2 separate regions of the Homo sapiens genome follow, and region 1 is linked to region 2. Evidence: fine-mapped expression QTL. A gene starts in region 2. The other region holds a variant in brackets. All regions are shown on one strand. Distances are from middle to middle.

The links. PIP is the estimated chance that this variant, and not a neighbour inherited with it, causes the effect.
Region 1: its variant is fine-mapped to the expression of RAB11FIP2 in whole blood (INTERVAL, PIP above 0.99).

Annotation. Positions count from the first base shown.
Region 1 is chr10:118,072,769-118,081,114 of GRCh38, forward strand. The region is part of intron 3 of CASC2 (cancer susceptibility 2); the gene reads left to right. Among named protein-coding and RNA genes, the nearest start is that of RAB11FIP2, 30 kb to the left of the region's middle. The variant A/AT (reference allele first, on the strand shown) is at 3,165.
Region 2 is chr10:118,043,313-118,051,658 of GRCh38, forward strand. RAB11FIP2 (RAB11 family interacting protein 2) reads right to left here and starts at 3,629. Exons shown (of 5, transcript NM_014904.3): 1 at 2,499-3,629. The coding sequence starts at 2,851. It overlaps CASC2 (cancer susceptibility 2), which reads left to right and starts at 3,509. Exons shown (of 4, transcript NR_026940.1): 1 at 3,509-3,791; 2 at 6,200-6,305. RefSeq lists a silencer at 3,067-3,556.

The sequences.
Region 1 (8,346 bases), 29 kb after region 2:
AAATTCTGGCCTCTAACTTATTAAAAACAATAAGTTGAAGTTGCTATACCACTTGGGAAATTGGTGAAATAATCTTAAAAAATGCTTCTTTAGCATTTTCAACAGACTCTTTGTCTGTTGAAACAGAAAATGGCATAAAAATCATTTTGAAAAATTGGTAGTGTATTAGTCTGCTTAGGATGCCATAAGAGAATACTACAGACTGGGTGGCTCAAACAACAATTTATTTTCTTGTAGTTCCTGGAGGCTGGAAGTCCAAGTTCAAGGTGCCAGCAGGGTTGGTTCCTGGTGACACCTCCCATGCAGCCTTGTGAATGGTCTGCTTTCTCTGTCTCCTTACGTGGTCTTTCCTCTCTGTGTGAGCATTTCTGATGTGTCTTCAACATCTTGTAAGGATTCCAGTTCTAGTAAATTAGAGCCCCCCATCCTTTTGAGCTCATCTAACCTTAATTACCTTCTTAAAGGCCCTGTCTTCAAATACAGTCACCTTGGGGATTGGAGCGTCAACATACAGATTTGGTGGAGACACAGTTCAGTTCATAACAGTATGAACTACAAATTTCCTGTGTAAATTAAAAGTCATAAATCCTGCAGTTACCTGTATCTATGTACTGATTTATTATGAATTGCTGAAAATTTTGGTTCCTTTTCTGAATATTAAATATTATTCGTAAGACTGAATAGTTTTATGATCTCTAGCTTTTGACAAATTTAACTCTCCTGTTAAGCTATAAAAAACATCTCTGATAAATCATCATCCCCGTGATTAATTTACATAAACTTTATGCTAGGCAAAATCATCAAATTTCAAGTAATTTTAGTAAATTTTATAAATTTGGCAAATTGGTGATTCAGAGACTTTTTATTATTTATAAATTATTCAGCCATAGAAAAACATGCTAGGAATAGTCATACCCTCACCAGTATCACAATTGGCAGTAGAAAGGTCTTGCATGTGGTGATGACAAGCTAGAAGAGGTCTCCAGAATTCTTTGGATATCATTTTAAATATCCCTAAGGGCTGGGTGGTCCTAAGACTATAAAAGAATGCAAGATTTCATCAGGTCAGATAGAAAATACATTTGCAAATCTAAGGCCTTCATCAGAGCCAAAGGTCTTTAGAATTCGACACATCCTAAAAGTCAAAGAAACGCAAAATTCAAGCAAGGGTTCAAACTGGGTAAGAGTTACAGGCCTCTGTGGGTAGACAAAGAACTAGGCAATGTGAACTCTGAGACCAACTACTTTCACATTAAAAAACTTAATAGCCTTTTTGATATATAGTTCTCTTACCATATAATTCATCCATTTGAAATATACAATTTAGTGGTTGTTAGTATATTCACAGATATATGCTATCATCACTACAGTCAGTTTTAGAACATTTTCACCTCAAAAAGAAATCCTATACCCTATAGCTACCAGTCCCCTATCACTGCATCTTTCTCCCCCCAGCCGTAAGTCACCACTAATCTACTTTCTGTCTCTATAAACTTTCCTGCTCCGGACCTTCAAATGAATGAAGTCATATAATATGTGGTCTTGTGTAACTAACTTATTTCACTAAGTGCGTTTTCAAGGTTCATCTATGTTGTAGCACATATCAATACTTCATTTTTCTTCTGGCTTCTTTTAAGATTTATTTATCTTTGGCTTTCTGCAGTTTCAATATGATATGCCTAGGTGTATTCTTTTTGGCATGTATTCTGCCTGGTGTACTTGGAACTCCCTGGATCTGTAGTTTGGTGTCCGACATTAATTTAAGGAAATTCACAGTCATTATTGCCTCAAATATTTCTTCCGTTCCTTCCTTTCTTCTCCTTCTGCTATTCCCGTCATGCACATCATGCACATGTTACATTGATAGTTGTCCTACCATCCTTTGATATTCTATTCCATTTTTTTCAGTCTTCTTTGCCTTTGCTCTTCAATTTTGAAAGTTTCTATTGACACATCCTCAAGCTCAGAGACTCTGCTTAGCCATGTCCGGTCTACTAATGAGCCCATCAAAAGCATTCTTCACTTCTGTCACAGTATTTTGCTCTGTATCATTTCTTTTTTATTCTTTCCTAGAACTTCCGTCTCTCTGATTACGTTATCCACATATTCTTGTGTGTTGTCTACTTTTTCCATTAGAGCCCTTAGTATATTAATCATAATTGTCTTAAATTTCCAGGCTGATAATTCTGACATTCTTGCCATATTTGAGTCTGGTTTTGATGTTTGCTCTTTCCCTTCAAACTATGTTTTTGTTTTGTTTTGTTTTGTTTTTTGTCTTTTAGTATGCCTTGCAATTTTTGAAAGCTAGAGATAATGTACTGGGTACAAGGAACTGCAGTAAATAGGCCTTTAGTAATGTGATAGTATGGTGTGGAGGGGAGAGAAAGCATTCTATAGTACCATGTATGATTCAGCATTGGTCTTTTAGTGAGCCTGGGTCCCTGGGCTGTGAACTTCACAAATGCTTCCCAGTAACCCTGCCAAACTTCCCCCGCCATAGTGCCATAGAGGGGGCTGGAGTTGGGCATTTCTCTACACCTAGGTTGGTTAGGCTCTGGTAAAATAGTTTCTTTTCAGGGCAGGTCTTATTAAGAAGAACAGAGTGCTCTGCATACTCCAAAACAGTTCCTTTTCTCCTCCCCCTGCCAGAAGCATGAGGGGTTTTTTCTCTATCTCCACTGTTAGAACCTGGAAACCAGTTTCTGGTTAGAACCTGGGAATCAGGTTCAGGTTAGAACCAGAAACCAGAAGTTTGTTCATGAGTTTTTAGAGTCAAATAATATTCCATTGTATGCCACATTTTGTTTATCCATTTGCGTATTGACAAGCATTTGGGTTGTTTCCACCTTTTGAATATTCTGAATAATACTGTTATAAACATTCATGTGTAAGTTTCTACGTGAACATATGTGTTCATTTCTCTTGGGTATATACCTAGTAGTGGAATTGCTAGGTCATATGATGACTCTACATCTAATCATTTAAGGAATGACTGAACTATTTTTCAAAGTGGCTGCACCATTTTACCTTCCCACCAGCAATGTATGAGACAGTTCTAATTTCTACATATCCTCATCAATACTTGTTGTTACCAAACTTTTTGATTTTTTAAATTATTGTAATTGTGATAAACTACATGCCACATAAGTTTTGCCATATTAAGC[A/AT]TTTTTTTTTTTTTTGGAGATGGAGTCTGGCTTTATCACCCAGACTGGAGTGCATTGGCACCATCTTGGTTCTCCACAACCTCCACCTCCTGGGCTCAAGCACTTCTCCTGCTTCACCTGCCCAAGTACCTGGGACTACAGGTGCACGCCACCACACCTGGCTAATTTTTGTATTTTTAGTAGAGACGTGTTTCACCATGTTGACCAGGCTGGTCTTGAACTCCTGACCTCAGGTGATCTCCCTGCCTCGGCCTCCCAAAGTGCTGGAATTACAGGCATGAGCCATTGCACCCAGCCCATATTAACCATTTTTAAGTGTAGTGTTGAGTAGTGTTAAGTACACTCACACTGTTGTACAACCATTCTCCAGAACTCTTCATCTTAAAACTCTAAAACTCGGTACCCATTAAAAAAAAACTCCACATTCCCCTGCATCCCCAGCCCCTGGCAACCACCATTTTGCTTTCTGTCTCTATGAATTTGACTCCTCTAGGTACTTCACATTAGTGGAATCATGCAGTATTTGTCTTTTTGTGAATGATGTTTCACTTACCATAACGTCTCAAAGTTCACTTATGTTGTAGTATGTATCAGAATTTCCTTCCTTTTTAAGGCCATTGAATGTATATCCTACATTTTGCTTATCCATTCATCCATCAGTGGACACATAAATTGCTTCTACCTTTTGGCTATTGTGAACAATATTGCTATGAACATGGCTGTACAAATGTCTCTTGGAGATTCGGCTTTCCTCTTCTTTTTCTTTTTTTTTCAGAGACAGGGTCTCTCTCTGTTTCCCAGCCTGGAGTGCAGGGGTGCAATCCTAGCACTTCACAGCCTGAAACTCTTGGGCTCAAGTGATCCTCCTCCCTCAGCCTCCTGAGTAGCTAGGACTTCAGGCATGTGACACCACACCCAGCTAATTCCATTCTTTTGGGTATATTCCCAGAAGTGGAATTGTTGGATCATATGGTAATTATATTTTCTGAGGGACTGCTATACTATTTTCCATAGCAGCTGCACTATTTTGCATTCCCACCAACAGTGCATAGGGTTCCAATTTCTCTACATTCTTGCCAACATTTTCTGTTTTTTTTAATAGTAGCCCTTTTAATCGGTATGAAGTGATATATCACTGTGGTTTTGACTCGCGTTTCCCTAATGATTAGTGATGTTGAGCTCACCTTCATATTTTGAAGTCCATGACATTTCAACCATGAAACAAAGTTCAGTGAAACTCATCAGGGTCTTTAACAAGTCTAGTGCCTATGTGGGCCAAAATCTCTATGCACATGTGACCTAAATTACATGGCATGGTAACAGGTTTCCTTTAGTGGGAAAGAATCTTTTAGCTCTGGGGAGATTTAAAATTAAGTGTAGGAAGGATTGCAATAATTAAAATGAAAGTAATAATATTTGGTGGTTAAGAAGAAAGCTGTTCATATTTCTTATTTTACAAATTTGTCTTCTTGGAATGACAGTCTTATGACTTCAGTTGAAAATTTGTAATTGTGTGATTTTGACTTAGGGCGACCAATTTCTCCTGATTTGCTCAGAATTGTCTTCATTTTAAAATAGAAAGCTCTGTATACCAGACATCTCCCTCAGTTAGGGATGGTTTATCACTTTATTTAGACTTGAGATTTTAAACTGAAATGTTACTAAGCTCATATACAATATTGGACCATTTAAAAGAACTTCAGTGTCATCAGGTTTAATGTACAAGATATAAAACAGCTTCTTAAATATCTGCTGTAATTTCTATAATTTAGATAATTGAAGTACTTAAAATATAGAATATATTAAATTTAGAAACAAAGTTTAAATATTTGAAAGTGTTTAATTAATGAGACCAAACATTATTCAAAGCGCACTTAAAAATAATTATTAACATTTGCTATACTTATATACAGACTAAAGAGATTTGTGAGCTGAACTTAATGACTATTTATCTGGAAGACAAAAATCCCATTTCATTCTGTGTTGCCACAACTGAATCTTAAGTTTAAGGTTTTCCTTAGTTAAATTAAACACCAATTGTTTAAACCAAAAACAAATTGAGAAACAGTCTTTTGGGAATACTAAGCTACTCTATAGGACCAAAAATTGGCATCAACTACAGCTCATGATATTCAAAAATACTTCCATTTAAGGAGTTTCAAAAGGACTCAGATTATCCTGGTAACATGGGGTATATTAATAGTTGTCAAGCAAATCAATAGAACACATTAATTATTGTAACCATATATATATTTGAAATGAAGACATCATTTTTGAGAGTCTGAAGATCAATTTAAACTGCATTTTGTTGTTTTGAGGACACAGCTCAATTTCACTGACTGACATTTTCAGCTAAAAAATGGTCTCAGTACTTTCCTTCTCTTAATAGAGCACTGCCTCCGTAATGTCGCTAAAGATTAAAGAGGATTAATGCCCATTCTAACAATTTGTAAATATCACTACATTTAAATATTCTAAATTGCTTATACTTAACCAGGATTAAAAGGAATGACCTCTTAAGATTCACAATTTTTTTTTTTTTGCTTTATTTCTCTGACAAAAACTATTTTTGGAAATAAGGTTTATCCTGCAAGCTTTACCAAAGTGGTAATTTCAATAGAAAGTCAAAGAAAACATGACGTCCAAAGAACCACCAAGCTGTAGGCAACAATATTTATAGGCACTCAGATTCATGCACATTCTTTTCAGGCTACAAAAGGCCTGTTATCCCACTTGGGGTAAGCTAGTCTTGAATACTGATTTGAAGTATCACAACGAGTGACAATTGCTTCCTAGCTACTCCACTTTGTTATATGCTTATCTCTGGAGTATGTTCCATCTCAAGCATGGCTCATGGCTACTGGCCTATTTAGATTGAAAACAAGAGAAAGGCAGCATGTGTCTTCCACTGTAATCTGTGACACCACAGCAGTTTCCCTGGTAGGGATGTACAGAGTAACCCTGCAGAACTCACAGGTTATAACAAACTGCTGCTCTGTTACCCCAGAGGAGATTAAGTGATGATCTGGAAGACAAAAATCCCATCTTATTTTGTTACCAAAACCCAATCTTAAGAATTAAATACTTATGAGGTCGGGCGCGGTGGCTCACGCCTGTAATCCCAGCACTTCGGGAGGCCGAGGCGGGCGGATCACGAGGTCAGGAGATCAAGACCATCTTGGCTAACACGGTGAAACCCCGTCTCTACTAAAAATACAAAAAATTAGCCAGGTGTGGTGGCGGGCGCCTGTAGTCCCAGCTACTCCGGAGGCTGAGGCAGGAGAATGGCGGGAACCCGGGAGGCGGAGCTTGCAGTGAGCCGAGATCGCGCCGTTGCACTCCAGCCTGGGCTACAGAGCCAGCCTGGGCTACAGAGCGAGACTCCGTCTCAAAAAAAAAAAAAAAAAAAAAAAAAAAAAAAAAAAATTAAATACTTCTGGGGAAAAGCCATAACATTCCAAAAGACAATTTATTATAATAGATATGCTATTACATTAAAGACAATTGCAGCCTTCTAATTCATTCTTAGTTTAAATGTATCATGGTTGAGGGAAAAAGGCTAGGTTAATAATATGAACACATTTTTATCAACATGAATCTGAAATGTTTTTGAAAAGCCTGTTATATAGATTATTAGAAAGGTTAGATTTTCCAAAAGGTTAATATTTATTTTTAACAAGAATGATTTCTTAAATTATAGTTTTAAAACGTTAATAATTGCCAGTGGTTTCAAATAGACTTCCTTTTATCAGGGAGCTGGGATCTTTTGGTTCACTAGACCTCCTTGATCTTAGGCTGTATAAATTGTTTAGTTTTATTTGGTGCCATAGGGACTCCTTCAAACTTATCAGAAGCCTCAGTTTAATACAGAAAAAGAGAGGCTCAGACATGTCAATATAATACTGTTAATGTTTTCCACGTTTGTGATTTCAGGGTCAAAGTCAAACCTCTTATTGTATTAATAATAGCAAAGCAAAAATAGGCTTTGTAGTTGTGAATTCATGGTTTTAAAGAATAATTTCCCTATGTTTTTATTAATTCAAGCCATCCATTGAACCACTCAAGGATTCCATTATGTATTTGAATGATGTATCTCATACTGTACCTTTAACTTTGGAAGACTATGAGAATGGATATGCGTGTGATTCTTTACAGTCATCAACATAGGATATTTCCTTTGTTCAAAAGTTATGTTAATTAATAACATTAAAAGTTATATTTAGTAAAATAAACTTTAGAGCTTAGCAGTAAAATAATTAAAAGCCAGTTTTCCTCTACTCATTATTTAAAAGAGCATGGTTTGCAAGTTAGTTCATATGCTATGCATTATGAAGCATGGCCATATATTCTGGATTCTTTTACTATCTGATTTGTAGACCCAGCAATAATCAGAATTTTAATAAAAAAGTTCCAGAGAAAACCCAGAAAGCCTCAGCTTACCAAGCGCTTTCCTTTTGAGAGTGTATTGAATCCACGTTCCATTCAGCACTGATTAGTGGTAAAACTAAACCAAAGCTGTCGGCGTATTGCAAAAGGCCTTTGCTTGACCAAAGCTCTTGTTTAAGACAAAGCTGCCATTGATGTCCACCCCAGGTGACAAGGGGTGAGAATGGAGTGACTTGGCAGCTTCTTTTTCTACCTGTGGGTCTTGCCCTTCTGTCATTCCCACCTGACACCCTTCCCCACCTTAAACTTGATATTGGTGGATGGGAGCAGGAATTCACAATGCAGCTAAAATAAAGATGCTCAAAGCTCCCTCTTCTGTATGGCAGACCTGGATTGTGTGCCTTTGAGAGGGGCAAGCTTGTCTTTCCTATTCCCTAAGAAATATATCCTTACCTAGCCAAACCTATTTCCCCTTCCTGAGGGCCTATGCAGGCATGCACAACACAGCAGTGTTCTACGTTAGATTTTGCACCAGGGTTCACTCAGGGTCTGCTGGTGGCTGTGAGAAGAACCTCTCAGCTGGAATGGTTCATGAGTGAATGGTAAAGCCTAGGTTTCAATTACTTTGGAGAATGGAACGTTTCTTAGCTTTCTTTCCTCATGAACTTCGTGGTATCATTTGTCATGCCATTTTGCCAGCTATGCACTTTTTTACATAGTTTTGTTTGGTTTGCAACTCACGAATATCAATCAAAGAAGTTGTTTCATTTTTAAGAAATGGCAAAGAATATCTTGC
Region 2 (8,346 bases):
AGCATTAAAAAAAAAAGTCAACATCACCTACTTCTATTGTAAAAAATCAATGGATATTACACAACAGCATCAATGATTTTAACATTCTATTACTAAACATTGTATTATTTCTTTAAATCTCATGCCAGAACCAACCCAGACATCCTCTAAAGGAGGAGATACAGAAGTTCTCTTCCCAGGCCCACTCAAAGGGTTCTGGCTCAGACCCTTTTTCCCCATTCCTTAAGAGAGAAAAAAGACATATATTTTCAAGGTAAGAAAATAAGTAAAGTAATAATTTTAGTTGTCATACTTCTTTATCTATCATGACACAACTGGAAGACAAGCTGTAAATATATGTCTTCAGTGTCAAAATGTAAAAAGTGTCACACCCAGCAGTTTCATAGGACATCTAAGTTAGCTGGTAGTCCTCATCACTCGAAACAGTTTTCTAAAAAGCACTTGGGAATATGCTGAAAAAGTTTAGCAATGTGCAGAATATTAAATATCTTCCTTGAAATATACCGGCGGCTCAAGTCTGTCTCTTACTGGGCCACAGGTACAGCTGTGCTAGAAAAGGAAGCTATTAAATATATTAAAAAACTAGAAATATTACCAATAAAGATATCTCATCAAATACATGGTCCCCATTTATCCACAAATAAAATGTTAAGGGTTTAGCAATATATGAAAATCACTTTGAATGCAATAACATCACAAACCCTGTTGATAACATTTAAAAGCATTTTACCCCTAAAGTTCTAATCAATTTTATATAATAGCCAGTAGAGAATTTCTATAAGGAGAGACCATAATATTAGAGTATTGCTCACACCAAATGTATTGTAACTGTGATGTTGCCCAGGACTAGGAGTAAAACAAGAAGAAATTGTAAAAGGTTATTTCATCCTCAGACTCCTTGGGTTCACATTTGGTCCTACTTTCACTAGGAAAATTTATGTTTCAGAGAAGGCCTGAAATACATGATCCATGAATATTAAAGTACTATAAATGAAGTGAGGAATTTGAAGGTGCAATATACTTAATAGTTTACATTCAAAACACGTTAAATATTTACTAAGTGTCACCCAAAATTGGCAATTTGAAACAGATTATTTGGTAATTATCCATTTTTCACTTTCAATTTGATAAAGAATCCCTCGGAGGAAACTGAATGCCACTCTTTAGGTATCAAATAATTTTATTATTCAAATCACTGATATATATTAAACTTTACATTTAACTTTTTCTCTCCTTCTAAAATATTTTCATCTCAATTAAATGGTACCATTTTTCCTCCTGCATTCCTAGTATTTCTGATCTCTCTACACTTTTACTCCACATATATTAAATCTTAGGTTAAGACCTGATTTAAAATGAAACAAAAAAACTCCAATCAAGAGAAGCCTGAGAGTAGAAATGTACAGAAAAGAACAAGAGAGAGTCGTTTTAAAATGTAAAGAATTAACATAAACTTCAAGAAAAATATCATTGTAAGAAAGTTTTTTAAAGAGTAAATAAATTCAATTATAACTGAACAAAACACCAACACTATTTTGGAAATGGAAAGTCCTCTTAGAAGTTCAACCAGTATTTTTCTCTCACTAATTTCATTAATATAATGTCCTTTTAAGTTTATGGAAGGGGTGAGTATACTTAACTCTAAAAACATATTTTTTTTCAATTTAAGACACAATATCCTAGTGTTAATTTATATTATGATTTTTTAAATTAAAATGTATCTAACTCAAGCTCAAAAGTCATACTGAAAAGACCACTGAAGATGTTATCAAATCATTTCATCACAAAAATTTATCATTCTCTCCATCCTACAGCATTTAATATGGTCTAAACACAATAGCTTTGGAAAATCAATTCTGAATACAATAACTCTGATGTAATTGCAAATTCAAAGGAAAATGTAAGTGCATTCGAAGTTGAGGATGTCTGTACATACTTTTAAAACTTTTTTTTTTTCTAACAGGTATAGACTCCCATCAAGGCACACTGACCCTGAAAAATGGCTGAGCTAAAATAAAAGCTGTGTTTATAACGCTGAAACGAAATACTGAGTTCTAAATCTGGTGATTTATCTTTTGACAGCTACAAAGTGCGACACATCAACATTACATTGCCAGATTTAATTTCTCATCTTCCATTTCATTGATAATTGTAAGGTTTAAAATCCATAACAATTTATATGAAGTTCTAGTTGGTCAATACTGTGATCCAGTCCTCATACTGAAACAATGTTAACTTACTTAAAATCCACCACAAAATATTCAATTATTTGACAGATGTTTAACAGAAAGAATAAGGGATCATTAATGATTCCATTTAAAAAATATTTCATCACGAGTGCTACTTTTACTTCAGATTCATGCAAATATGGTGCTTAAAACTGGATCATATTTCAATCCAAAAACCAACGCCCGAAGTATACGGATAATTTCCAAGAACAGAAAAACCATAAATAAGATATAAACTCCCCCAAATTCAAAATAAATTACATAACTTACTCTGTTTTCCTTCTTTGTTTGTCCTCAAAGATGTCATTGAGATTGATTGCCACCTGCCCTAAAAATTTATCCAGACCCACCAGGGACCTGTGCATAACTATAAGGAAAAGAATGTATTTCTCTGGACTTCCCTGAATTAGCAATCCAGGTAGCTCGAAAGAGGCCTCCTCCTTCCAAACTGGCTCAAGGGTTTTCTCAGCTACAGAGGTGGAGTACTTTTCCTTGCCCAGCTGAATTATAGTGTATGTGTCATTGGTACCACTTTTGCCTTTTGGCTTCAGATCTTTGGCTTGGAGCACTGTGACCTGCACGTGGGTTGGAAACCACTTTTGGGCTTGCTCGGACAGCATCATCCTGTCCTGTTTCTCTGCCCCCGAGTTCCCTAGCACAGGCAGTGCCCCTCCCGGAGGGAGAGCCTAATTCCTTAATCACTGCATCCTAAGGACACTTAACGGAAACAGGCAGGCTCAGGGCTCCCCGACTTCCCTATGGCTGATGTCAAAACGCCTCGCGGGGGCAGCCCAGGGGCACGGCCGCTCCGGGGGTCCCCTTTCGTCTGGAGAAACACAGAGGCCCACCATCACCTGGCCGCGCCGTGCAGGCCTCTGCGCGGACCCCCGCCCCTGTCTCCACCTTCCCCAGGCCTGCGGGGCACGTGAGGCCTGGCCACACGGACCCGGGCGGAGGGCTGCGGGGGTGAAGGGAGCCCCCGCCCCAATTCTGCACCCCTGGCCTCCCGCCTGCCTCCTTGCGGCCGAGCAGCCTCCGCTGCCTCCGCGCCTCCCGCCCGCCCGGCGTTCGTCCGCAGGCTCGGCCCGGCTCCTCCTCCCGACCCCGGTAATACGAACCGCCGGCGGCTAACGCGGCCTCGCTCCCTCTCGCAAACCTCTCCCTCCTCCTCCTCCCCCTCGCCTCAGCTCCTCCTCTCGGGCGGGAGCGGGTAGCCAGGGGTGGAGTGGGGGAGGGCGGGGAACGCGGCCGCCCCGGCGCCGGCGGGACGTGGGGCGGGCAGCGGGCTGCAGGGCTGCGGGCGCTTGGTTCGGCCTGGCCCGGCCGGCGGCTCCTAACACCGGGCGGGCGGCTGCGGCGGCACTTCCGGGTTGGCCTTCTCCATGTTGGTCTCGGGAACGTGAAGGGGCGGGGCCTCGAGGTCAGGGGTCAGCACCTCCCTGGTTGCCGTGGCGACTGGAGGCGCGCGACGCGGGCGCAATGGCGGGGACCCGGGGCTTGATGCTGCTTGGGCCTGGCCCAGTGGCGGGTCCTAGGGACGTGGGTACCTGCAGAGGCCGGCAGGTGAGCCCTGGGGAGGGCTGGGGACCGCTCGTGAGAGGAGGTCATCAAAGACCCGGAGACGCCCCTAACTAGGGCGTCTTTGAGGGCAGGGGATCTGTGTTCGCTGTGTCCTGGATGCCCAGTGCCTGGCAGGAGCAGGTCCATAAATGGTGTTGGAACGAATCAGGCCTCTTCACTGACCGAAAGGAAACTTTTCTCCAATCTCCTATCCACCCTTCTCTTTTTGAAAAGTCCGTAAATTGACTGAAAATGACATCCCCCACCCAGACGAAGGGCGATAGGGAAGCAAATAGTTTCCACAGGGAGTAGAGATGTAGGGAGGCACTGGGCTGGCATCAGAAGACCTGGTTCCGGCCGCGCCTCTGCCGCTATCAGTGTGTGTGACCTTGGCCGAGTCATTTCACCTCCATGAGCCTCAGTGTTTTCACGAGTAAAAAAGCCAGTTCTACCTCATGTCTAAGACTCCATCACGACTCTATGGGCTCGACGTCAAAAGGACCCCCGTGGGGACTCACACTGTGGTGGACTGTGCAAATCATGTGGAGACCATGCCCCAAACACGGGTTTCGAGTTTCAGGGGATAATACATGTGCCTTTCCTAGCACAATGCGGCACATAAATCTCCTTTTGCCCCTCTATTTCTCAATTGGAAGAGACGCTTATGTACCACCCCATTGCTGTTAATTCTGTTCGTGTCTTACCTTCCCAAGGAAATTCTAAGTTTTGGGACTGCCTTGTCTATCATGCAGTCCCTTCATAGTGGCTAGCATGCAGCAGACAATTTACTGAATTACTTAATGCCTTTTTTCCCTTTACAAGACTAATTTTGAGAGTAAAACAATATGATACATGTAAATGCACGTTTTTTTAACTTAAATGGCCATAAACATGTAAAGTATCGTGTTTATTATTTTCAAGCAAGGTTTAAAACTTCTCATTCAAGGCAGAATTTTTCATCCCTGGGAGACAGTGTATGAAAAGGCCATGTGTGGAAAACAGAACAAAATCATCGTACTGCGAATATAGCATCTGGATCCCAGAGTGCACAGTTGTCAACTTTAAAGAAAAATATTCTTAGGGATTTTTAAACAGTACGTTGGAACAGTCAATGGTGGAATTTCACCAGGATCTCTAAGGAGAAATAATTTGACACCTGAAACTTACAAAAACCAAATAAACATCATGAAATCAAATTTAATTAAGTTTAGAGTTCTTATACATTTTAAAAGTCTTCATGTCTCTATTAAAGGTTGTAATTAAACAATAGAAAATTATAATAGTGGATGTGTATTTCTGAAGAGCTTAAATTGGTAAGCTTTATTAATGATTATAAACTTGTTTACAAATATAATTTCACTCATCTCTGAAATATAGCCATCTCTAGGGTAGAAGTTGGCAGCAGTAGTTCACAGCAACTCAATAACATACTCCAACACAACTCAGAGAATACTCTAAAGGCAAGAGCTGAACAATTGGAATTACTAACCTCTCTTTCTGTAGCACCTAAATTTCTTTTGAGTTTTCCCAACAGCTGGCTAGAGCCAAAATTGTTTAGTTTTACTGGTGAAATCAGAAATTATGACTTAAAATTTTTTAAGCCAGAATAAGAAAATAACATATTTTTGCCCCCGGGGAAAGCAAATAAACAAACAAACCAAATGAGCTAAATAGAATCTGGGATTGCATTATAATAAGGAAATGACTTCCTATAGAATGTTTTCCTTTTTTGATTATATTAAGAGAATAAAAATATGACAGTGGAGTCAAAGATATGGTTGGCTTATAGTGAAAAATAATGACAATTACATAAGATCTGGGATCAAAGTGCTTCTCCCAAAATGTTTATTGTTTTACAGTTTTAAAAATTCTTTTGACTAATTCTAAGATATACATGGACAACAATTTAAAAAGGAAAGGATTGCGTGTGTAAGGACAACATACCAGAATTGAAGAGAGTCACTTTTTAAAAAATTATCCTATGACTAATGATACATCCGGAAATGTATGGTACAATTCCAAAATCAAAGTCTTGGGAAAATAATATATTTTAGAAGGAAAATGCTGAACATTCTAATTTTAAACTGTTAACAATGCCTACAGCAATGAATAAGAATGCTTTGACCAGAAAGTTAAAATAGTCAATATTTATTCCCCATGAGTAGAGGATTTCACAGATGAAAATATTTACTACATGTTGCCCCTTTCAGTCCCATAAAGAATAAGTCCCATAAGGAGACCTATTCCAGACATTGGGGGAGATTTTCCCTTTGGACAAAGGCATCTCTAAAATCACATCTTGCAAATCTGTTGCAGAACAATTATAATGCTCTCATGTTTAAATAGCCCACTGGGTCAAGCGTGTTAATGCTCCCATGTACATTATGTAATGGATATTAATTATTTTCCAGATGGAGATTCAGAAACATAAGGACAACAAGAAACTTCCCCAAGGTATCATTATAGTCTTTAGACTTCAGACACACACCACACCTCAAATATATACACAACTGAAAGGTATGTAAAATTCATATATATGTACATATGACAAAGCCCCAGAGTTATATTGGAGATACATAGATAGATGATAGATAGATAGATAGATAGATAGATAGATAGATAGATAGATAGATCAATCTCCTTGTAATCGGTTGAAAAGTGAAAGAGTATTTGGCAAATTGACTTGAAATTATTATGGCAATGAACTGGCATTTGGGGATTTTTGGGGATTGTTTTGTTTTGTTTTCATCGCTGGACTGATCAATTTCTCTTCTGGGATTGGGCAGTGTGTGGATACATTTTGTGATGCCCAAGAAGTAACATGGTATGTAGTGTAAAGAGCTCTAGTCAGCAGCCTGGGTCTTAATCCCAGGGCTGCCTATTACTAGCTACATCTCTTTAGGGAAGTCATTTTTCTTCTTTGGGCTGTCTTGTAAAATGAGACTTTTATAGCAGCCACCAAAGGATCCTCTAACATTTAAAGATTCTACATAGTATATCCACAACGCAAAGAAGCAAATTGCATTATAATTATCTAACTGAATTTGGTCAATATACTAAAGCAGATTTCCTTTTTATGTAACATATTAATAAAGAATTCTCTAATTCAGGAGAAAAAAATTATTTTTTAAGATTTCCTGACAGCTCTGTCTCCCAAATGAAGGTAATTAATGATCACAGAAAGCAAGTGAATATAAGTTTTATTAATAGGCTCTGCATGAGGCAATTGACACCAACAGCTCAAGATTTGGAAGAAATTGCATGTATGTGCAAGTGGTTTTGAGCAGCCTTGAACTTTTTAATTGTAGTAATAAGTTTATAACTTCTATCTGTATTATTTGTAGCTTTTTTGAACTGTGAAAATATGCTGAGATTGGTAAGAATTTACGGAGCAAAATACACATTTGCATATAAGAAGGTTTTGTATGGGAACATCTTTCAATTTCCTTTTCATAGTATCATAGTATTCCATTGTATAATTTTTATTCCTACAACAAAATGCATATTAATGCATAGAACACGAATTGATTAACTTTAACTGGTATATGGCATTGGGTGAGATGAATAAGCCCCATTTGATCTTTTCTCCTTCCAAAGGACATTTAAGTTATTTCCACTTTTTCAATTATCATAAACAATGCTGCATAAACATCTATATATCTCCTATGCACATATGCAGGGATTTGTTTTGGTAATTGATGATGAAATTATTGGGAGTTTGTGAATGAGAGTATGGAACACCCATGGGCCTGAGTATTAGACTTGAATTCTAATCCTGGTTCTACAAACTAAGGAGTTATAGACCTGGCAAGCCATATTCTGTCTGTGCCTCAGGGACTCCTTCCAAATCCAGAATTCTCAAACTCCTTTTGTTATATTTACTGAGAAGCAGAGATTATTGCTATTGGAAGAAGATTTTGTGACTACTTTGGTATTTGTCTTCAAATTTCAATTGTCTCATCATCATGAGTCTTTCTGAAATCTTCCAGAACATTGCTGCTTCTACAGATTTAGGTGCGGGTTAATAAGGGCTGGAGAGTTTTGATTATTCCTGAAGGCAATGATTAGCAGAGTTATATAAACTTATCATATTTGTACTTTGTAAACATCTGCTAAATTTTTTATGTTCAATTAAAATCCAAGACAGGGATATTTTTTAAACAAAGAACGGGGTATTCAAATTATAATATTTCTAGGACGGCCTGGAATCCATAAAATTTCTGGGATAATATTTCTGGAAATACATTCATTTAGAGAGCATTAAACCGGTGGGCGGATGGCAAAAACATTTTGTGGTGGTGGTTTTTTCCCCCATGTGAGATCGACTGTTCTCTGCCTTTCTACTTATTTGATCTATGTTAAAAAAAGTAAAGGGCTTTTGTTGTGTTTTGTTTTATTTGTTATATTTTGTGTGTTTGATATAAAGCCTGGGGGAAAATGACATTTTGAAGGATAGATCCAACTCTTCTTGTTCCAGGGCCAGATTTTAAACATTTCTCCTAAAGCAACTTTCAACTGACCTGAACAATGTTTTAGTCCATCTGGATATCTGATCATA